Regions from separate parts of the Homo sapiens genome. Here regions 1 and 2 are each reported to be linked to region 3. Evidence: microRNA targets listed by miRTarBase, many of them from high-throughput screens and not tested one by one. Region 3 holds a microRNA gene; each other region holds the end of a gene's coding sequence.
What was found. Region 3 holds the annotated microRNA hsa-miR-6510-5p (CAGCAGGGGAGAGAGAGGAGUC, at 5,350-5,371, opposite strand). A microRNA usually pairs through its seed, bases 2 to 8, with sites in the 3' UTR of a target mRNA and lowers its output. Matches are read on the target gene's strand: a 7mer-m8 pairs with bases 2 to 8, a 7mer-A1 pairs with bases 2 to 7 and ends in A, and an 8mer does both.

Region 1 (7,182 bases), not on the chromosome of region 3:
GCGCTGCCTACAGCAGCCTTGTATGGACTGCGGCTGGAGAGGGAGGCTGGAGAAGGGTGGGCAAGTGAGGCTGGCAAGCCTCTCCTGCACCCAGTGCGGCCTGGGCACCCGCTGCCTCTGCTCTTGCCTGCCTGTGGGCATCACCATGCCCCGATGCCTGACTACAGCTGCCTGAAGCCACCCAAGGCAGGCGAGGAAGGGCACGAGGGCTGCTCCTACACCATGTGCCCCGAAGGCAGGTATGGGCATCCAGGGTACCCTGCCCTGGTGACATACAGCTATGGAGGAGCAGTTCCCAGTTACTGCCCAGCATATGGCCGTGTGCCTCATAGCTGTGGCTCTCCAGGAGAGGGCAGAGGGTATCCCAGCCCTGGTGCCCACTCCCCACGGGCTGGCTCCATTTCCCCGGGCAGCCCGCCCTATCCACAATCTAGGAAGCTGAGCTACGAGATCCCTACGGAGGAGGGAGGGGACAGGTACCCATTGCCTGGGCACCTGGCCTCAGCAGGACCTTTGGCATCTGCAGGTGAGGGGCACCAGAGTGCGGAGTGCCCAGGGCAGAGGAGGTTCTGGAAGATGGTGGGGAAGTCAAGGGGGAACAGGGTGAGAAACAGCTAAGCCAGACAGAAGAGCCCCATCCTGCTCACAGCCCACCTCTCCCCTTCACTGCAGAGTCGCTGGAGCCGGTGTCCTGGAGGGAGGGCCCCAGTGGGCACAGCACACTGCCTCGGTCTCCCCGAGATGCCCCATGCAGTGCTTCGTCAGAGTTGTCTGGTCCCTCCACGCCCCTGCACACCAGCAGTCCAGTCCAGGGCAAGGAAAGGTATGCAGAGGGGCCGGGGATGCTCGAGTGCTTTCTTGTCCAAGCAGTTGATGAAGGCAGGTGGGGTGGGAGCAGCCACAATGGGGGCTCTGCTGACCATCTGCCCTTCCACCCTACAGCACCCGGCGACAGGACACCAGGTCCCCCACCTCAGCGCCCACTCAGAGACTGAGTCCTGGCGAGGCCTTGCCCCCTGTTTCCCAGGCAGGCACCGGAAAGGCCCCTGAGCTGCCGTCGGGAAGTGGGCCTGAGCCTCTGGCCCCTAGCCCAGTCTCTCCGACCTTCCCTCCCAGCTCGCCCAGTGACTGGCCTCAGGAAAGGAGTCCAGGGGGCCACTCAGATGGCGCCAGTCCTCGGAGCCCTGTGCCCACCACACTTCCTGGCCTCCGCCACGCCCCCTGGCAAGGCCCTCGAGGCCCCCCCGACAGCCCAGATGGGTCTCCCCTCACTCCTGTGCCTTCCCAGATGCCCTGGCTTGTGGCCAGCCCAGAGCCGCCTCAGAGCTCACCTACACCTGCTTTCCCCCTGGCTGCCTCCTATGACACCAATGGCCTTAGCCAGCCCCCACTTCCTGAGAAACGCCACCTGCCCGGGCCGGGGCAACAGCCAGGACCCTGGGGCCCAGAGCAGGCATCATCGCCAGCCAGAGGCATCAGTCACCATGTCACCTTCGCACCTCTGCTCTCAGATAATGTCCCCCAAACCCCAGGTATAAAGGCCTTGAGGGGGTTGGTGCCACCTTGAGAGAACCCTTTCTCCTGGGATGTAGCATGGATGGGGACCCGGGTACCCTGGGGTCTGAACCTACTCCCTCCCTGTCCTAGAGCCTCCTACACAAGAGAGCCAAAGCAATGTCAAGTTTGTCCAGGATACATCCAAGTTCTGGTACAAGCCACACCTGTCCCGTGACCAAGGTGAGAAGCCAGCCTGCCCCCACCCCACTGCATCCCACCTTCCAGGGTGTCTGTCTTGGCTTTAAGTCCCATCCTGTTGAAGCTCTTGGCTCCTCCTGTCTGAGCTGTGTTTACTCTTGGCTGAGTGTTTACCAGCAGGTGATTCTGGGCTTTGGGCCAAGGCGGTGAGATCCAACATGGTCAAAACCCCTGTGAACTCTAGAGCCCTGGCCTCAGACTCTTACCGCCACCACAGCTGTCAGGGCAGAGACCATGGAGCTTGGCAGCAGAGGAGGGGGGCTGCATGGGGCTCAGTCCACCCCTGTGAAAACTCCTCCCCACTGCCCGCTACCCCTCACCCTGCAGCCATTGCCCTGCTGAAGGACAAGGACCCTGGGGCCTTCCTGATCAGGGACAGTCATTCATTCCAAGGAGCTTATGGGCTGGCCCTCAAGGTGGCCACACCGCCACCCAGTGCCCAGCCCTGGAAAGGTACAGAACACCCAAACCTGAGTGGGGTGGGGATGAAGTTGGGGGTGGTGCCAGAGGCAAGGTAACAGGGCAGGTGGGGGTGCTGTGCTGGCCATGCCGCTGTAGAGGGGAGAGGTAGGAAAAGACCTCAGCTGCTCGGGAAAGAATCCCATTAGGGAAGAAGCTGGAACCTGGAATCCTAAAGCCGCAATCTTCCCCTCGCCTCCTCTCAGGGGACCCCGTGGAACAGCTGGTCCGCCATTTCCTCATCGAGACTGGGCCCAAAGGGGTGAAGATCAAGGGCTGCCCCAGTGAGCCCTACTTTGGTGAGAAGCAGGAGCCTGGGGAAGGCTACGTTGGGTCGGTTTAGGGAGATGCCAAGGGATCTCAGGAGGATGGAAGGGAAAGGCGGGGCACCCTGGGCATCTCGGGACTTTCCTACCTCCTCTCCCACAGGCAGCCTGTCCGCCTTGGTCTCCCAGCACTCCATCTCCCCCATCTCCCTGCCCTGCTGCCTGCGCATTCCCAGCAAAGGTGAGTGTCTGGTCATCTGTCCTCCCCACCTCTCCCTACCCCCTGCAGCCAAAGCAGGATCCAGAGGTCTTGGCTCCCCGCCTTCCCTTGGGGAAGCAGAGGGAGTGCTCCAGCCTGGGGAACACTCTGCCTTCTGAGCTTCCCTGTCGGTTCTCATTGCCCTCAGATCCTCTGGAAGAGACCCCAGAGGCTCCAGTGCCCACCAACATGAGCACAGCGGCAGACCTCCTGCGTCAGGGTGCTGGTAGAGACTTCCCCTCCACTCCCCTCCCTCTCCCTGGGCACCAAGGGGGCATTGTGGATACAGGGCATGGGGCACTGAAAGGCCTTGAGGTGGGTGAGCCCTGGCCAACCCATGAGGGCAGGGGAGCCCCATACTGTCGGGGATGAGGAATTGGGTCCTCAGCCTAGGTTCTCAAAGTCTCATGAACAAGACGATCATGGGGTGGTAGCAGGGAGGCTTCTCTGCCTCGCTTCTGACTGTAGATCCAGTAGAGTCATGGAATCTGCCTTTTTAACAAGTCACCTATGTGATTGTAAAGCATGTGACAGCAGTAGCTGGGGAATGTGCAAGAGCTGGTGGGGGTGGCTAGGGGATGGGCACTCCCTCCCTGACCCACTCCCTGCCCCTGTAGCCTGCAGCGTGCTCTACTTGACCTCAGTGGAGACAGAGTCACTGACGGGCCCCCAAGCTGTGGCCCGGGCCAGCTCTGCAGCTCTGAGCTGTAGCCCCCGCCCGACACCAGCTGTTGTCCACTTCAAGGTGTCAGCCCAGGGCATTACACTGACGGACAACCAAAGGAAGTATGTATACTCAGCCCTGTAGAACCCCATGCTTAAGGCCCCTGGGGGCTCATGTTTCTGAGTGTGACCTTCCTCACCCTCCTCCTTGCAGGCTCTTCTTTCGCCGCCATTATCCAGTGAACAGCATCACCTTCTCCAGCACTGACCCTCAAGACCGGAGGTGACTCTCCCTCCAAACCCTTTGCCCCAAATCCCCATGGTCCCACCAGGTCCCAGCTCCCAGCCCCAGCCCCAGCCCCGGCCCCGGCCCCCCTTCAGCAGCTGTCCCCTGGGGTGTGCATCTTCACCTTCTTCTCCTTCTGCAGATGGACCAACCCAGACGGGACCACCTCCAAGTAAGCCTCCCCACGAATTCAGCCTCTTCCTTCCAAGGGACCAGGGCGCTGCTGTCCTCTCAATGCTGGCATTTGATTTGTCTCACCAAGGCCAGCTACATTCCCTTGTGGAAGGAATGTTAAGCCCCTTCCCCACCCTTTATCCCCCTAGGATCTTTGGTTTCGTGGCCAAGAAGCCGGGAAGCCCCTGGGAGAATGTGTGTCACCTCTTTGCAGAGCTTGACCCAGATCAGCCTGCTGGCGCCATTGTCACCTTCATCACCAAAGTTCTACTGGGCCAGAGAAAATGAAGGAAGGCCACAAGCTCAGAGCCCACATCAACACTGCCCCCCTCCCAGCACCCCACAGCCCTCACATCCCCTGGCCTGGACCCAGGAGACCCAGGAGAAAGCACCCTCCCTTAGGAATGAGGAGTGGGCATCAGGCCTGGGACACTGCTCTCCTTCCCCGCCCCCAGCCTGCTAAGTTAAGTGGACAGGCCCACAAGATGACCTTGCATGTGAGCAGATGGCAGAGATGGGTGTGTGAGGGGTGAGGAGGCATCAGCAGTTGAGCCCCGAAGGAGATCAGGCAGCCCCACCTGCAGGAGAACGTCAGCCCTCCAGGGGATCAGCCCCTGCCAGTTCCACCCAGCTGCAGGTGCCAGCACGGCAGGGATGGGAGAGGGGTGGGGAGCGAGTCACTGCCTCCTCTGAGCAGAGATTCAGAGTAGGATCACATGAATAGGGGAAAAAAGAGAGTCTATTTTTGTCTAATAATAAAGAATTTCTATAAACTTTAGCCGAAATTGGAGTCAACACTTATTCACAGGAAGGTCAAAGCCTCATCTCCCAGGGGACGTATCTGTGCTCAGGCCTGTAGCCAGGCCCATGGAACATATGATTCCCATCCCTGGCCCAACATTGGTCCACATCTCCCCATGAGCAAGCTGCCTTCGGCTGCCCCCATCCAGCAGTCCTGTTCCTAGCCCAGTGGACTAGAAAGGCTCCTGGTTCCGGCCATACTGATAAATACGGAAACTCCATCTTTATCGGCTGTATAAACATCTCTGGTCTGTACATACATTTCATACATCGTAGGGTGGGAAGCGAGGGCCAAAGGGAGGCCCAGCAGCACAACAGCTCACCCGCTTTCCCTACAGCCCTACCCGCTCTGTGCAAACCAAGGCCAACAGCTCCTGCTGCCTCTTCCTCCCTGGAAAAGTCACTGTTACGGGGAGGGGGCCAGGGGTTGAAGGATTAGAAGGAGATAGAGGGCTTGGTGGGGAGGACACATGTAAGTGCTAGAATCAAACACTGAAGCGAAACAGGCAACTGGCACAAGCAGCAAGCTGAGGCATGGGACGGGGCAGGAAAAGGGGAGGGAGGGGCCACGCTGCCCCTCTGGGCTTGCTCAGCTAAGGCTCTGGGGTCTTGCCCTCACGCTGGCAGGGAGACAGGCCCCAGAGCCTCAGCCCCAATACCCGGGAGCTAGGGACATGGGTGGCACTGGTAAAGAAAGGATGGAAGGGGAGAAAGGAGTGAAGGCCCTAGTGCCCTGTCACCTCACAGCCCCTCTCTCTTAAACATGCAACAGGCACCCACCCATGTGGGTCCAGGTATGGGGAGCCAGAGACCTAGATCCTCTGTGGTGCCTGAGCAGGTTGGGGTGGGGAGCCAGCTCTCAAGGGAAAGATGGAGAGCCTAGAGGAGTCTTCCTGGGGCAGCAGCCAGTGAAAGGACAGAGATGACCAAAGAGAGGTCCCCTGGCCCTGCCAGGGGTATGACAGCAGCAACTGGTTCACACAACCAGGAAAGAAAACAAGAAAGAGGAATTCAAGGAGAAATACCATGGTGAGTAGGGGAGGGGGCTGTCTACTCTACCCTCTACAAAGCATCATGCCCGAATAGCAGCTGAGATAGGGTGCTCACGCCTCTCCACCCACACAGGGCCGGTGAGGGAAAGGGGGACCCAGAAGCCCACTGACCAAAGCGAGTGGGACCACCCACATACCAACACCATTCTTTGGGTCCATTCCTGTCCAACCAGGGACTCAGGCCCAGGGACTGACAACAGTGGCAGCACCAGGTCAGAAACGTGGGCACAGAGAAGCGTGACAGGGGCCTGAGCCAGTGGGGGCAGAGTGACTACACACCTCCAGGGGCCTGCTGGGTAAACGAAGCCTCTGGGAAGTCAGGAACTGGGTGCCTGGCCCAGCAGAGGGTGAGCAGGGAGAAGGAGCAGGTCTGGAGGGGAGGCCCTAGCCACTCAAGGGGTGCAGATCTACTTTGACTTTCTCCCCGCAGCTCAGCATTCCAATGGTGGGGAAGAAGCCTCCAGAAGGAACAACAGCATCCTTCTTCCCAATGATCTTGCCATTCCGAGTGAAGAAAACCTGGGGAGGAGGTGGGGAGAAGAATGGAGCAAGCAGGCTGTGGCCTCTTCCCTGAGGATGCTGGAGCTCCACAGGCCTGAACCCCAATCACCCCAGCTTCCAGCGGGGCTGGAGAGGGGCAGTTAAGGTGTTATGGGAAGTGACCACCAGAGGGCGTGCTGAGGCCGGAAAACAGCCTCCCAAGACCGTCTCCCGATCTCAGCAACCCCTGGAGCTGGGAACAGCCCTTGGGCAACGCCAGAGCTTCCCGTCTTTCCCACCCTGGTTGTGAGTTCTGTTCCCCACTAATACCCACCCTTTGCCCAGACCCAAAAACCCTGGTCCCACCTCAAACTCTCCGTACTCACCACCACCTTCCTGCCCTCATGCTCCGGCTCTATCTCTTCCCCATCCTCTTCCTCTTCCTCTTCCTCCTCTTCCTCTTCCCCTTCCTGGTGCAGGTACATGACATTCCGCACGTTCCGGACGGCCCGGGCAGTCGGAGACAGGATCACTGTGTCACAACTGTCATCACTGTCCCCTAGGAGACCAGGAAACCTGAGCTCCTGTGGTGCCTTTCCACCCTCGGCCCCAAGCAGCCTGGCTGGCCACCCCTACCCCACTCACCCTCACTGTCCAAAATGTAGTCCCGGGGGAACATGATTCCACAGCCCATGATGTCCCCTTTGTAACAGCGTGGCCCAAAGGGGTCCCCCACACCACTGCCATGGAAGATCTTCCCATCGTCTGTTGGAGGGAGGGGAAAGGACAAACACTTGAGGAAGGAGGGCTGACACCACACCCCCAGAGTGGCTCATGAAGCTGAACACTTCCCACCCCTCAGAGGAAGGGAAGGGTCAGGGCGGAAACAAAGATGGAGAGAGAGGCCGGGCGCGGTGGCTCACGCCTGGAATCCCAGGACTTTGGGAGGCCAAGGAGGGTGGATCACCTGAAGTCAGGAGTTTGAGA
Region 2 (7,182 bases), not on the chromosome of region 3:
ACTCAGGGACTGCCCATCCCGGCACCCAGTCCTCATCCCATGGGACGTGGGGGCAGCCAGGGAGAGGGCAAAGGCCCCCGTTCCCGTCCAGGTCCATCCGTCCATGGAGGGAAACATCGTGGAGATGGAGGTGCTTCTGTGGGGCGAGAATGTGGCCTAGAACTACACCCAGAGTGGGGGGGTTGGGGCAGAGAGACATGGTCATGGACTGGGTCGTGGCTCAGGTCAGAATCTGGGCTGCTGATGGGATGCAGGTGGCAGCATGGGCACCTGCAAGACCCTCGGGGAGGGGTACTGAGTGGGGCCCGACCAAAGGTTTGGGACACTCTAAGACTGAGGCCCCCACCCTACAGTCACTCACTTCCCTCAGGACACAGGGCTGCAGGTGTGAGCTGAGCTGCCGATGGCTTGGGGACTGCAAGAGAGGCCTGGGCCACCGGCTGCTGTGGGTGGCTGCTCTCTCTGGTTCAGGAAGTGCCTAGGCTGGCCAAGTCTGGGGAAAGTGGGCTGGCCCGGGGCTGCTCCTGAGTTCTGCCAGGCAGCACCGCACCTGGGATGGGCACCAACCATGTCCGTCTCCTCCCTTCCTGCAGTCCAGGGCCAAGGCTTGTGTTCAATCGTGTGAATGGCCGGCGGGCCCCCTCCACGTCCCCATCCTTCGAGGGGACCCAGGAGACCTACACAGTGGCCCACGAGGAGAATGTCCGCTTTGTGTCCGAAGGTAGCGAGCGGGGCCAGAGGGTGCGGCATAGGCTGCTGGGTCGCAAAACCATGGACCCGGGATGGCCCCACTTCAAGCTGACCCACAGCCGCTGCATGGCTGTGCTTTTCCTTGGCACTCTGCCCTTGTGTCCTGTGACCAGCCCTGTGTGGGGCTGGAGTCCAGGGTGACCATCAGGCCCTGGGTGGGCGATGGGGTGCCTGGGACCTGGCTCAGCCCGACTGCCCTCCTCCCACAGCCTGGCAGCAGGTGCAACAGCAGCTGGATGGTGGCCCAGCCGGTGAGGGCGGGCCAAGGCCTGTGCAGTACGTGGAGAGGACCCCCAATCCCCGGCTGCAGAGTGAGCCCCCCAACCCTGTCCCCCCAGGAGAGACCCCCCAGCCCCTCTGATCCTGACCCAGGCCCTGCCAGGTTCCCACCCCAGGGGATGAGGGAGGGGACTCTTGTGCAGAAACCCCTTCTTCCCAGCGCCTGCCGCACTCGGAGTCCGGGTGAGCGGCTTGTGGTTAGCTCCAGGGGAGACTTGCCGGCTGGCCTGGGAGGCAGCATCACTGCCCAGCCTTCTCTGCCCACAGACTTTGTGCCCATTGACCTAGACGAGTGGTGGGCGCAGCAGTTCCTGGCGAGAATCACCAGCTGTTCCTAGTGGCTGCTGGGAGGGGGCGCTGCTACACGGCCGACCTGTCGCCAGGAGAGAAGCATGGCGCCCTGCCCACCCACTGCGCCTGGCTGGGTGCCGGCCACACCTGAAGTGCCAGCATTTGGACTTTTGCACCTTTTTTTCCCTTGGCCCGGCTGTCCCAACCAAGCTGCCATGGCCAAGGGCCGAACCCGTCTGACCTCAGCCCTGCTCACTGTGCCCAGGGACCAGCGACCAGCCCCTGGGGCTGGCAGGGAGGAGCTCCAGGCTAATAAAGTGGAGAAACTGTCTTTTTGGAGTGTCTTTGACTTGGGAGGGTGTAGGGGGGGTTCTCATGTCCAGTTCCAGTCCACAGCCTGGGACGCCAGGCCCAGCACAAACTCCCCTTGTAGCCCTGTTCCTTCAAGCCGTTAGCTTCTCACCCAGCTGCCCTGCGACAGGTAGGAGGGACGTTAGCCAGCCCACCTTGCTTGGAAGTCTGGGGACCCCACTTGGTTCCTCTTTCCTCTCCCGTTGGCGTTGACTGGGACCGAAGCCGAGACTCAAGGCCTAAAGACATTAAATGGCCCCGGAGTGCAGTCCACCACCCCCCACTACCGGCACTGGGGCTGTGTCTCAGAACGCCAGGTCCCATTCTGAATCCGCCGGGCCCGGCCGCAGGACACTGGGCGAAGGAGTACGTGGGGAACCTGATAGGACGAACGTGGGAACCAGCCCCTCCGCGGGCGCCCGCACTACCTTCCCTGATGGACGGGGATGACCCAGCCCACCTGAGTCAGGACCCAGGGTACCCAGGTGTGGAGCAGGGGCCTCTGGACGGCGAGAGAGCGGCAGGGTGAGGCCCGGCCGTCCGTGGCATGGCCAGGCCTCAGCGCGACCTCGCCTCGCTGCTTGCATGCGGCGGGAGCCCCGGCCGGCCGAGGCGCTGACAGGTGGGCGCGGCGGAGGATCCGCAACCGGCGCGGGCTTCGAAGCCGGTCGGGCTAACAGGGGGCTGCCTTGGGAGGCCCGCGGGGCAAAGGGCAGCGGGATTCGCGGCTGGAGCAACCCTGGAGGCCGCTGACGTGAGCGGGGTACTCCCACCGGGGAGGTCACGTGGCCAGGGCGCCGCCATGACGGCGGAAGTAATGGCGGAAGTGGCACCGTTGCCAGGCAGCCGTTGCCTGGCGTCGCGGGGCGTACTCTGCGCTGGGCGCGCGGAGGCCTAGGCGGGAAGCTCGAGCGGCGGCGCCATGGCCCGAGGTAGCGCGCGGCTGGCGGGGGTCCCGAGGATCCCGGGTTCCGGGGTTCCGGGGTCCAGGGTCGGCGGCCGGAGCGCTCAGGGCCCCCGCCTAGGCCCTGAGGCCAGAGTCCCCGCTCAGGCAGGGTCCCGTCTGCCGGGCGCCCACCCTCGGGCTCCCGGAGCTTGGCTTCCCTCGGGCGCCCGGCCTCGTCCCGCCAGCCTAGCTGGCGTTGGCGTCGCCGGGGAAGGCGCGGAGAGCCCCGGCTCCTGCCTGGTCCCCGAGGCCCGGCCCAGCCCCGCAGTGGCCCCGGCTCGCGTGGCCGAGTCCCCTGACGCCCGGCGCCCGCTCCCCGCAGCGTGGCAGCACCCGTTCCTCAACGTCTTCAGACACTTCCGGGTGGACGAGTGGAAGCGCTCCGCCAAGCAGGGGGACGTGGCCGTGGTCACGGTAGGCGGCCGGGGGCTCGCCCGGAGCCCACACCCCTGCCCTGCCCCCAGGAGAGCTGCCCCGCCCCCGAGGGCCCCCTCGCCCCCGCTGCACTTCTTCTGGGTGCTGTCGGTGATGCGGGCTCCCGCTTCTCCAGGACAAGACCCTGAAGGGCGCCGTGTATCGCATTCGGGGCTCAGTCTCTGCCGCCAACTACATCCAGCTCCCTAAGAGCAGCACCCAGTCTCTGGGGCTGACGGGACGATACCTGTATGTGCTCTTTCGGCCCCTGCCCAGCAAGCACTTCGTCATCCACCTCGATGTGTCCTCCAAGGTACGGAGCCCGCGGCTGGGGGCTGCGTGGGAGCCCCGGCACCCCTGCGGCCCCTGTCTCCTCACGGCCCTGCTCCGTCCCCACAGGACAACCAAGTCATCCGTGTGTCTTTCTCCAACCTCTTCAAGGAGTTTAAGTCTACGGCCACGTGGCTCCAGTTTCCCTTGGTCCTGGAGGCCAGGACACCTCAGAGAGGTGACACCAAGATGGGGTGTGGATGATCCAGGACAGGTGGCTGGAGGGAGTTGGTGCAGGCCCAGTGAGGCTCCTCTGCGGCCTGGAGGACAACCTGGCGGGGGCACAAGCTCACAGTTCTGGGAGTCGCGGGCTGTCAGGAGGGTGGGCGCTGACCCTGAGTGCCCATCCTGCAGATCTGGTGGGTTTGGCCCCCTCCGGAGCCCGCTGGACCTGCCTGCAGCTCGATCTGCAGGACGTTCTCCTGGTCTACCTGAACCGGTGCTACGGCCATCTCAAGAGCATCAGGCTGTGCGCCAGCCTGCTGGTCAGGAACCTGTACACCAGTGACCTGTGCTTTGAGCCTGGTGAGGGCCGCACCTGCACTCCCCACTCCATATCTCACCCATGCTCTCAGCCCTGGAGAGGCCCAAGTCCAGGGTGCTTGGGAAAATACAGTGCTCGAGCTGTGCTGTCTCTGAGCTCTGGCCAGAACCCATCCCAGAGGCAGCCCTGGGGTCAGAACCCATCCCAGAGGCAGCCCTGGGGTGGGGCGGTGGCTGGGCTGGTGGCGTGGCAGTGCCTTGGCGGGTGCCCTGTGTTCAGGTGGCTAAACAGCCTCCCTTGACCTGGAACAACCCTGCTCCTTGTAGCCATCTCTGGGGCCCAGTGGGCAAAGCTGCCCGTGACTCCTATGCCTCGGGAAATGGCATTCCCTGTGCCCAAGGGAGAGAGCTGGCATGACCGCTACATCCACGTCCGGTGAGTGGTTCTGCTTCTTTCGAGGGAGGCCTCGGTGGTGGGAGGGTGGGTGGCCCTTGGGCCCCCAGACACTGACTCTCCCTCTGCCTGCCAAGGTTTCCAAGTGAGAGCTTGAAAGTGCCTTCCAAGCCGATTGAGAAGAGCTGTTCCCCTCCTGAGGCAGGTGGGTCTGGGGGGTCAGCGGGGACCCAGGTTAAGGCCTGTAGGGTGCGTGGGGCTCGGTAGGAGAGGGCAGGGCTGGGAAAGGACCCAGTGGTGTGCTGGCTGCAGCTGGTGCAGGGACCCAGGGAAGCCCGTAGGTTGTCCGAGTTCCCAGAACCACGAGGGTGGGAAGTCTGTGTGAGGGGTACCCGGGGGCCCCAAGCTTTCTAGCTGGAAGAGGAGACTTTCAGGGCCTAGGGTGGAAGTGGGGATACTGGCTGTGGGTCCTGCAGAGCCGGTGAGGCTGGGCCACTTGCTGCTGCCCTCCCCAGGCGTCACCCTCACCAGGCATCTGCACAGCTGGCCCCTGGGTCACTGGGGTTCTTTGCTCTGTTCTAGTCCTCCTGGGGCCGGGGCCACAGCCTCTCCCTTGCCCGGTGGCCTCCAGCAAACCTGTGCGGTTCAGTGTGTCTCCAGTGGTCCAGACGCCCAGCCCCACAGCCGTGAGTACCCCCTTCGCCCTATGAGATGGGGTTGGGGTGTGATGGCCCAGGACGCTGATGGGCACTTGTCCCCCAGCAGTCCGGCCGGGCCGCCTTGGCACCCAGGCCCTTCCCGGAGGTCAGCCTGTCCCAAGAGCGCTCAGACGCCTCCAACGCGGATGGCCCCGGTTTCCATAGCCTTGAGCCCTGGGCCCAGCTGGAGGCCTCTGACATCCACACGGCTGCTGCCGGCACCCACGTGTTGACTCACGAGTCGGCTGAGGTGCCCGTGGCCCGCACCGGCTCCTGCGAAGTGAGTGCCCATCCCACAGCAGGCGGGGCCTGGTGAGGTGTGGGCTGGGGCAGCTGGTAGCCCGCCCCGAGATGCATTCAGAACGGATGTGCCTCCAACGGTCTCCTCTTGTTCAGCCTCCTGGCAAGGAGCAGAGCTGGCGGGAGGCGGCTTTGGGGAAGAATCTCTGTCCACAAAGAGTAAGGCAGGGCTTCTGCTCACCCCCAATGCGTCAGCCCCAGGTGGTCTGTGGGGGACCCTCGAAGGTCTGGCAGTGCAACTGGAGTCCCAGCTTCCACCTTACCACAGCCAGCAGGAGCCACCCAGGACCAGGGCAGTCTTCTTGAGAGGCAGGACCCAGCTAGGGGTTGGCGGGGCTCGGAGTTGGTCGGGCATTCTGGGGACCTGGCTGAGCCTCCCAGGACTTTGATGCGAATGGCTGTTTCAGGGCTTCCTCCCAGACCCAGTCCTGAGGCTCAAGGGCGTCATCGGCTTTGGGGGCCACGGCACCAGACAGGTGAGGCTCCTGCGGCTGTGTCCAGAGCAGCTCTCGTTGGCCGGCTCGAGCGCTGAGTACAGAACGGGGAGAGAGGAGAGACCTATGTCCTGTGGTGGCTGTGTGTGGGCTCCCGAGCCCCCCTGGCACAGCGGTCCCGTCCCCCTGCAGTCCGCTGCTTCCCGCGTGCTCAGGCATCTGCCCCGCCCACAGCTGCTGTCACCTCCTGGTGCCCGGGGGCTCTCAGGGTCACGGGCATCTCTTACTCACTGGCTGGGCTAAGTGCTCCCCCCGAAGACCCAGAGCTCTCACGTCTTTAGAGCTCTGATGATCCAGACCAGCAGTGTGGGGCCAGGCTGTGGGCACAACCTGTAGGTCCCTCATGGGTGACGTGGGCCTTCTAGGAGAGGAGCCCCATGGCAGAGGAGGTGGCCTTCCCCTCTGCCTCAGTGGCCTTGGGCCCTTGTCAGGCCCTGCTGGGTGCCTGCTCTGAGTGTTTGGGGGCCCTTTGGCCTTTTGTTACCCCCACCCCGGAGTTTCTTGCACTGGAGGCGGGGCTTAGAGGACAGGCGTCTGTGCATGTGTGTACACGTGTCTGCTTGAGTGTTCCAGCTGTTCTTTTGACACATGCAGCCTGTGACTCGTGTATGTAGTGTGTGCAGGGTGTGTGTTCTCTCTTGCCCCTGGGTGGCTGTGTGCCCAGGTGTGTGTGCCAGGCCTGCCACCCCCTCTCCCTGGGCTGGAGTGGGAGGTGAGGCTGACCTCCCGGCAGCCAGGAGGGGCCTGGCGTAGCACCGGTCCTCAGCCCCCCGCCCCCTTGTGCCAGGCCCTGTGGACCCCAGACGGGGCGGCTGTCGTGTACCCCTGCCATGCGGTCATCGTCGTCCTGCTCGTGGACACGGGGGAGCAGCGCTTCTTCCTTGGCCACACAGACAAGGTGGGTGCTGCCCGGGCCTGGGGCAGCTCACACCTGCAGCCCCTACACCCTCCCTCACCCTTCTGCCTCCTAGGTCTCCGCCCTGGCGCTGGATGGCAGCAGCTCACTATTGGCCTCGGCCCAGGCAAGGGCCCCTAGTGTGATGCGGCTCTGGGACTTCCAGACCGGGCGGTGCTTGTGCCTGTTCCGGAGCCCAATGCACGTTGTCTGCTCTCTCAGGTGAGCACAGGTCTGCCCCATGCAGGGGGAGGGGGTCAGCCCAGGCGACAATGACCACCTCCTCCCTGTTCACAGCTTCTCTGACAGCGGGGCCCTTCTCTGCGGGGTTGGCAAGGACCACCACGGGAGGACGGTAACAGGGCCCTGGCTGCGGGTTGGGGTGGGGCTGTCCTGATGCACGCAGACAGCTGGAAGGGTCTTGGTTTTCTGAAACTCCAGCTTCATGTGACCCTGGGTCCCTGCTCTGTGTCCTCCCTGTGGTGGGGCTCCCTGCACTCTGGTGTTCATGCCGCCCCCGTGCCCTGCACAAAAACCACCACCAGCAGCTCACATTT
Region 3 (7,182 bases):
TAGCTAATGGTTTGGATGTCAGGGTGAACTTAAACCACAGCATGAGAGACTAAGGTTAGACGTGAGGACAATCTTTCTGACGTTAATGACTGTATGGCATTTGGCATGCTGCCCGCAGAGGTTAAGAAATGGGTTTCTGTCGGGCGCAGCAGTTCACTCCTATAATCCCAGCTACTCGGGAGGCTAAGGCAGGAGGATCACTTGAGGCCAGGAGCTGAGACCAGCCTGGGCAACAGAGCGAGACCTGGCCTCTTATAAAAAATTTAAAAACAAAAGATGGGTTTTAGATTTTTAGTTAGCATATCTCTTAAGAAAAGTGTTGCAGCTTCTGTCACCTCACGACTTAAAGGGCAAAGCGAGGGTCTGGAATCAGAGCGACCAGTCCCAGACCCAGCTTCACCATTTCCTGGCTTGTGACCTCATTCAGGTTACTAAACTTCTCCAGGCCTCAGTTTCCTCTTCTGAAACTGACGCTGAAGGCTGATACTAACTTAAAGAGCTATTGGAAGAATTAATGAGATGCCATCCCGGAATGCCCAACCCAGGGCCTGACATATCATAGACACTCACTAAATTCCATTTCCTTCCTCCAGCCCCAGGAAGTCTCACCTGTGTGCGTTCTCAGGAGACACATTCTTAATTAAATCTCCCCTAGAAAGAGCAGGCACCACTTTACCTCCAACCAGGGGTTTGTGGGGAAGAGGCTTTGCACAACAAGACACATGGGGACCCTCTCAGAGGGCTTGACCCTTCCCCCAAAAGATCGGATTCTCCAAAGACAGAAGCACCTCCAATCTGCTCTTCCCAGTGAGACCAAGAAACCGGTTCTCCCTCCCCACCCCCAATTCTCACCCCAGTTCCTGAGCCAGCCCAGCCTCTGCACCCAGAGTTCTGTGCTTCCTCATTTTCTGCCCTCGGTTTGGGACGATAAATGCAAGAGCTCAGAGAAAACAGCCTGAGACCAGAGGCCACAAACAATGTGTGCATGGATGCTACCGCTCTAGAAGGACTCTGGTGGAGATGCTGGGGATGGGGGAGCAGGAGCAGGATTTGGATTAAGGAGGGTAAGAGGGGTTGATGATGCTTTCAACTTAATCTTGGGAAAATCTCGAGGGCTTCCTGGAGCTGGTGTCTTTCCCTCTGGGCAATATAAGTGCCTTTTGGGAGGAGGCATCAGCTTCAGGGGGGATGGGGCCAGCTCTGCAGGGGAGTCAAATTGGGAACTGGCTCGGCCACTCTGGAGGTGTTATGCCTGGCTAGAAAGGATGGGAGATTGGAGCAGCACATGTGGTGAGGGTCAGAAGCAAGGAGCAGGGTCCTGGCAGCAGGCTGTGAAAAGGGCCCTGGGGTCCTAGAGCAAGCCCTGGTCTTGGAGTCCTACAGACACAGGCCCAGGCCCAGCCCTGCTACTTATCATCCATCCACAAGGCCCGGGGCAAGTTATTCTTCTCTCTGCCTCCAGTGACCTCATCTCTAAGGTGGGAATAATAAATCCTGACCACCTACAGTGGTGAGGATTAAATGAGCCCCATGGGTGAGCGTGCCTGGCATCATGCCAGCCATGGGATGGCGAACAAAGACAATCAACGCGATCAGTCACTTGGTAAATATTCATAATTATTAGATGTGTTGAGTTCTGTGCTGGGTACACCAAACTCTTTTTAGGGAACCTCCCCACCCTCACTTCCCTGGTCACCCCATGGTGACCCAGAAGAGCAAATTACCTGAGTAGCACTATGTTTGTCCCAGCCACTGGTGCCCTGGGTACCCAAAAGAATTGTGGCCACGCAGGGAAGAGGCCAAAGTGGGGGGAGATATCACCATGTGGACCCTGGGTCTCCTCAGAGATCAGAGGCCAACCAGGACCCCATCAAGAAAAACTGGACATACTGCCAAGAGATATTTGCAAAAGGAAAAGTAATTCTTTATTACATGAACAGACACTGTACAAATGAGCTTGTTACACAATACAGCTGCATCTCCTTGCTCCAAAGAAGGTGGGGAGAGGCAGAGGGGGAATAGAGCGCATGCAAAGCCCTGAAATAAAAGACCGAGGGACCCTTTTCAGCTCTCTGAAGGCAGGGACTGGAGTTTGCATGTGCAGGCCCTCTGGCCAGTCCTCCACTTGGCCTGATGAGAGTGGGGAGTGGCAAGGGACGTTTCTCCTGCAATAGACACTTAGATTTCTCTCTTGTGGGAAGAAACCACCTGTCCATCCACTGACTCTTCTACATTGATGTGGAAATTGCTGCTGCTACCACCACCTCCTGAAGAGGCTAGAGAGAGAAGGAGTAGGCTTTAGAGTGGGGGAACCTCCCCGCTCTGCCACGGTGGCCAGGACCTTGGCGGGGCTCTGGGAAAACTAGACAGCACCCCTGAGAATGGCCACTGGCCAATCCCTCAAGAGCTGCCAGAGATCTGGTGTTGAATTCCTCATCACAGAGATGGGCAGTGGCAATGGCAGGTATGCCCGGCAGGGAGCAACAATGTCAGGGTTTTTCAAGCTGCACATGAAGGGGGATGAATTGTGGGCATCTTAGCGGAAGTGTATGAAGATGGGGCCTGGGGGAGAGACATGCCCTGAATGAAGCCTACTCAACCTGGAAGTTTCTCAATAAATCACCAGCTGCAATCTCACCTGGGGCTGACAGAAGTTCCCACTGGGGAAGAGGCATCTAATGAATGGGAATGTTCCCACCTAATGGGATGTTTGGGCTCTTTCTCCTTCCTCCCTATTCCGAAGGGGGTGGTGGCTTCAACATCTCCCCTCCCCACCCCACACCAGAAGAGTAAAGCCTTCCTACCTTCCCTGATGGCAATGCCAGCCATCCTGAAAGAAAGAGGGAAGCTGATTTAAGCAAAGGGCACAAGCTCAAGTGTCCGTAAGGGAAGCTCATGTAGATAGCTATGCAGTGTTCTTCAGACCCTACACCACCACCACCCACACATCTGACTCCTCTAGGGGTGGGACATCCTGCTAGCCCATCCAGGCCTGCTATCCCCAAGTAGACAGATTTTGTTTTGTTTTGTTTTGTTTTTTGAGACGGAATCTCACTCTGTCGCCCAGGCTGGAGTGCAGTGGCACGATCTCAGCCCACTGAAACCTCCGCCTCCCGGGTTCAAGTGATTCTTGTGCCTCAGCCTCCCGAGTAGCTGGGATTACAGGCACCCGCCACCACGCCCAGCTAATTTTTGTATTTTTAGTAGAGACGGGGTTTCACCATATTGGCCATGCTGGTCTCGAACTCCTGACCTCAAGTGATCCACCCGCCTTGGACTCCCAAAGTGCTGGGATTACAGGCATGAGCCACTGAGCTGGTCAAGATTCTGAACTACAAGAATACCCATCTATCTCATGCAGAGAATGGAATGAGCACTAGATCTTAACTACCACTAGCCCAGCCTCTATCATTTACAGAAGAAACACGGATCCAGAGAGAGGAAGTGACCTGTCCCAGGTAACAGCCAAGGACCAGAGTGAGGAGTCCAGATCCTCCCTCCTTGCTCAGTTCTCTTTTCACAGTCCCTCAAGGCTGCTTAGGGACACCCTGCCATTCCCTTAGGATGACCCTGCACCCTAGCCACAAGCAGCCCTCATCACTCCTTCCCCTGTGCCCAGGCGCCTACTTGGCATCCTGGCCCTCGAGCAGGCTGCGGTAAGTAGCGATCTCCTGCTCCAGCCGTGTCTTTATGTCAAGCAGCATCTTGTACTCCTGGTTCTGAGCCTCCATCTCGCATCGGAGCTCACTCAGCTGGGCCTCCAGGCCACCAATGAGCCCCTGGATCTGCTGCAGCTGCGTGGCATAGCGGCACTCTGTCTCGGCCAGTGAGTTCTCCAGCCCAGCTTTCTGGGGGAGTGACAGATGCATAGACACATCAGGCTAGAAAGGAAGCCACTGAGGGCAAGCAGGGAGGGGGCACTGAATGGAGTTCAGGGAACCACCTCTTGAGGGGGCTTGAGAACTCCAAGGCTTAAATAGCCAGGAAGAGTGGGAGCTTCTACCACCCGAGAGGCTGGGATGGGGCGCGAGTGGCCGTACCATGCTGAGCTGGGACTGCAGCTCGATCTCCAGCTCCTGCATCGTGCGTCTCAGGTCTGTGATCTCCGTCTTGCTGGTCTGGATCATTTCTGTGTTGGAGGCCACCTCTTTGTTCAGCTCCTCAGTCTGTAGGTCATGCACAACAGAAGTGAGCCCCGGGGCCTCCTCGGAGACTCAGGGACCTGGGGCAGGAAGGGCAGGGCAGGATATAAGGCCCACCTTGCTGAAGAACCAGGCCTCGACATCCCGGCGGTTCTTCTCCGCCATGGCCTCGTACTGCTCCCTCATCTCTGCCAGCACACGGGTCAGGTCCACACCCGGTGCTGCGTCCATCTCCACATTGACCTGGCCGGCCAGCTGGCTGCTGAACTCCTTCATCTCCTGCAGGATGGGAGGGACCCACTTAGAGACGGAGAGCAGAAGAGAGACCTGAGAGTCTGGCGTCACACATGCCAATCCTGGCTCTGCCCGTAACACACCCCAACCGCTGTTCCCCATTGCACATGAAGAGGTTTGGTCACATGGACCCCTCAGCTCTAAGGAGTTCTCTGCTGCTCTAGGTCCTACCAAGGGAGGACCCCGAGACTGTAGGGCCCTGATGTGAGCTCACAAAGCCAATCAGGAAGTCAACCATTCATACGGGCCACCTGGGCTGGCTGTGGGCCTGGGCTACCAGACACTGCCCCTTCCTCTCCATGAGGACACCTGGTTTTGTGGGGTAGGTGTGTTTCTGAACCACTAAGCCCCAGGCCAACTATGAGGAAGTACCAACAGCCCCACTCTGCCTCCCACTGACTTAATCTCGTGAAAATCTGGGAGGGCTTCCTGGAGCCACTGTCTTTCCCTCTGGGCAATTTAAGTGAGTTTTGGGAAGAGGTTCCCCACCTCTCTCGGGTTCAGGGGTGATGGGGGCCAGCTCTCACCTCTTCGTGGTTCTTCTTCAGGTAGGCTAGCTCCTCATTCAGGCCCTCGATCTGCATCTCCAGGTCAGTCCTGGCCAGGGTCAGCTCATCCAGGACTCGGCGCAAGCCGTTGATGTCAGCCTCAACGCCCTGGCGCAGGGCCAGCTCATTCTCATACCTGAGGAGAGGGAGGCCAAAGAAGGAAGTGGGAGGGGTCTTGGCTGCCTGAGTCAGAGCCAGGAGAAGGCCAAGTAAAGTGGGCAATGCAGGAAGAGGAGAGAGACGGGGGAGCGCACTTGAGCCTGAAGTCGTCCGCAGCCAGCCTGGCATTGTCGATCTCCAGGATGACCCGGGAGTTGTCGATGGTGGTGGCCATGATCTGCAGGAGACAGAGTCGGTGTCTAGAGGACTCCTCTCTCTCCCCTGCTGCTCTCTGCTCTGCACCCAAGGCCAGCCCCTCATTGAAAATCACCCCTCACTGACAATCACCCCTCTGACACCACCAACAAAAATCTGTACGGCTTCTGGGGTGGGCAAAGTCCAGCCTCACTTTCAGTGTCCATTTCTTGTTTTGTCCCATCCAGCCTCCTTGAGACACCTGAGGAGCTGCCTTCCTTATCTCCAGGGCACGAAAGACCAAGGAGGCAGTATTGCCTGTGGGAATTGGTTGCCCAGGAGAGTGGGGCAGTGGGGTGCAGCCAGCTCTGACAATAGCTCTCTCAGAGACACTCCACCAGCCCCACTGTGGACAACTCATGGTCACTGCCTCCTGCACACCTTGGACACAGCCATGGATCTACAGAACATTCCAGCCAGTAGCAACCTGGAGGGCAGTTAAGAAGGCATTTTACGAATGAGGAACCCAGTCTTAGGGAGTAAAATGGTGAGTGAGTGGGTGGCAGAATGTGTAATGAGTTCCCAGGTCTCCTAAGACCCAACAGTACTTTTGGCACAAAAGACCTCTTTATAGGAAAAGACAAGAGGTTCTAGCATCTGGAACTCATGAGGCCACACTCCAATCCCATTCTTGCAAAAGAGGTAAAGGAATACTTTATGCAGAAGCCTGCAGGGTGCATGAGGTAGGGAGGGCGAGTTGCTCTTTTTTTTTAATTATTTTTATTTAATTAGATACAGGTTCCACTCTGTCACCTAGGCCGGAGTGCAGTGGCACAGTCATAGCTCACTGCAGCCTCTAAATCCTGGACACGAGCAATCCTATCACCTTGGCCCCCCAAAGCACTGGGATTACAGGTGTGAGCTACTGCCTCTGGCTCTTTATAATTGCCCCCACCTGTGCCCCTGTTGGTCCTAACCAGATTCCCAAGACCCCTCTCTCCCTCCCCCAGCACCACCAAGTTGAGAAGATGTGCACTGGCCTCTGCACCTGGACAGCAGGTGCATTCCAAATTTGCTGAGATTACATACCAGACAGTCATTGCCTGGGCAGGAAAGGATTTCCTTGAGTCAGCAGTAACACTGACATTAGAGCTGTGTACAGGGTACCAGCCACCTGCTCCCCTCTCTTTGACATCCGAGGACTCACCTTGTCCCGGAGCTCTTCAATGGTCTTGAAGTATTGGCTGTAGTCGCATTCTGGGCTGGTTGGGGTCTGCTTCTGGTACCAGTCATGGATCTTCACCTCCAGGTCAGCATTGGCCTCCTCCAGGGCACGTACCTTGTCCAGGTAGGAGGCCAGGCGGTCATTGAGGTTCTGCATGGTAATTTTCTCATTGCCAGAGAGGAGACCACCATCGCCACCACCAAAGCCACCACCAAAACCCCCACCAACGCCCCCTCCAAAGCCTCCACCGAAAACACTACCAGCCCCTCCACCAAAGCCACAGACCCTCATGCCACCCCCATATCCTCCTCCTGACCCTGAAGAGACAAACCTAGCAGAAGAAGCTGAGATACTTCGGCTTCCACCTCCCCCAGAGAGACTCCCCCCACCAAAGCCACCTCCCCCAGCCAGGAGGGAACCCCCTCGGGTTGAGCCACCCCCAAAGGTGGAGGAAGAAGTTTGCAGAAATGTGGTGGTCATGGCCAGGTAGCTGGAGCCCGTGAGTTCTCAGCAAACCCAAGAGATGCTGGCAGGAGGTACCAGGCCAGGCTGCACGCTGGGGCTCCTTATATACCCTTCAGAGGGTGTTGTGGGACCTCGTCTCCTCCCCTAAAGCAAAGCCAACTCCTTCTGCCTTCCTGACAAACACAGCTGCCTGCACACCTTGAGTGGGTCATGT

Region 1: miRTarBase lists SPRYD3 as a target of hsa-miR-6510-5p. Seed matches in the 3' UTR shown: 7mer-m8 at 6,066-6,072.
Region 2: the mRNA of MCRIP2 is a reported target of hsa-miR-6510-5p. Seed matches in the 3' UTR shown: 7mer-m8 at 1,567-1,573.

The regions. Positions count from the first base shown.
Region 1 is chr12:53,059,733-53,066,914 of GRCh38, forward strand. It overlaps SPRYD3 (SPRY domain containing 3), which reads right to left. Exons shown (of 11, transcript NM_032840.3): 9 at 6,841-6,960; 10 at 6,582-6,754; 11 at 4,584-6,234. The coding sequence ends at 6,100. TNS2 (tensin 2) reads left to right here. Exons shown (of 29, transcript NM_170754.4): 18 at 1-526; 19 at 673-823; 20 at 943-1,532; 21 at 1,648-1,737; 22 at 2,083-2,208; 23 at 2,421-2,513; 24 at 2,644-2,721; 25 at 2,888-2,965; 26 at 3,357-3,525; 27 at 3,617-3,685; 28 at 3,831-3,860; 29 at 4,012-4,647. The coding sequence ends at 4,150. Among named protein-coding and RNA genes, the nearest start is that of MIR6757, 6.4 kb to the left of the region's middle. RefSeq lists an enhancer at 6,207-6,708.
Region 2 is chr16:646,824-654,005 of GRCh38, forward strand. MCRIP2 (MAPK regulated corepressor interacting protein 2) reads left to right here. Exons shown (of 5, transcript NM_138418.4): 3 at 594-721; 4 at 960-1,061; 5 at 1,297-1,651. The coding sequence ends at 1,367. WDR90 (WD repeat domain 90) reads left to right here and starts at 2,542. Exons shown (of 41, transcript NM_145294.5): 1 at 2,542-2,603; 2 at 2,940-3,031; 3 at 3,168-3,344; 4 at 3,431-3,539; 5 at 3,716-3,886; 6 at 4,172-4,280; 7 at 4,376-4,443; 8 at 4,821-4,924; 9 at 5,004-5,216; 10 at 5,644-5,712; 11 at 6,518-6,628; 12 at 6,702-6,847; 13 at 6,923-6,980. The coding sequence starts at 2,594. LOC105371038 (a long non-coding RNA gene) reads right to left here and starts at 2,490. Exons shown (of 2, transcript NR_135177.1): 1 at 2,132-2,490; 2 at 1,635-1,792. RefSeq lists enhancers at 1,107-1,156, 2,579-3,401 and silencers at 2,577-2,676, 2,787-2,916.
Region 3 is chr17:41,511,845-41,519,026 of GRCh38, forward strand. It overlaps MIR6510 (microRNA 6510), which reads right to left and starts at 5,373; the gene lies at 5,320-5,373. It overlaps KRT15 (keratin 15), which reads right to left and starts at 7,046. Exons shown (of 8, transcript NM_002275.4): 1 at 6,486-7,046; 2 at 5,239-5,321; 3 at 4,964-5,120; 4 at 4,260-4,421; 5 at 4,041-4,166; 6 at 3,628-3,848; 7 at 2,805-2,830; 8 at 1,901-2,276. The coding sequence starts at 6,983. The coding sequence ends at 2,179. RefSeq lists an enhancer at 4,797-5,681.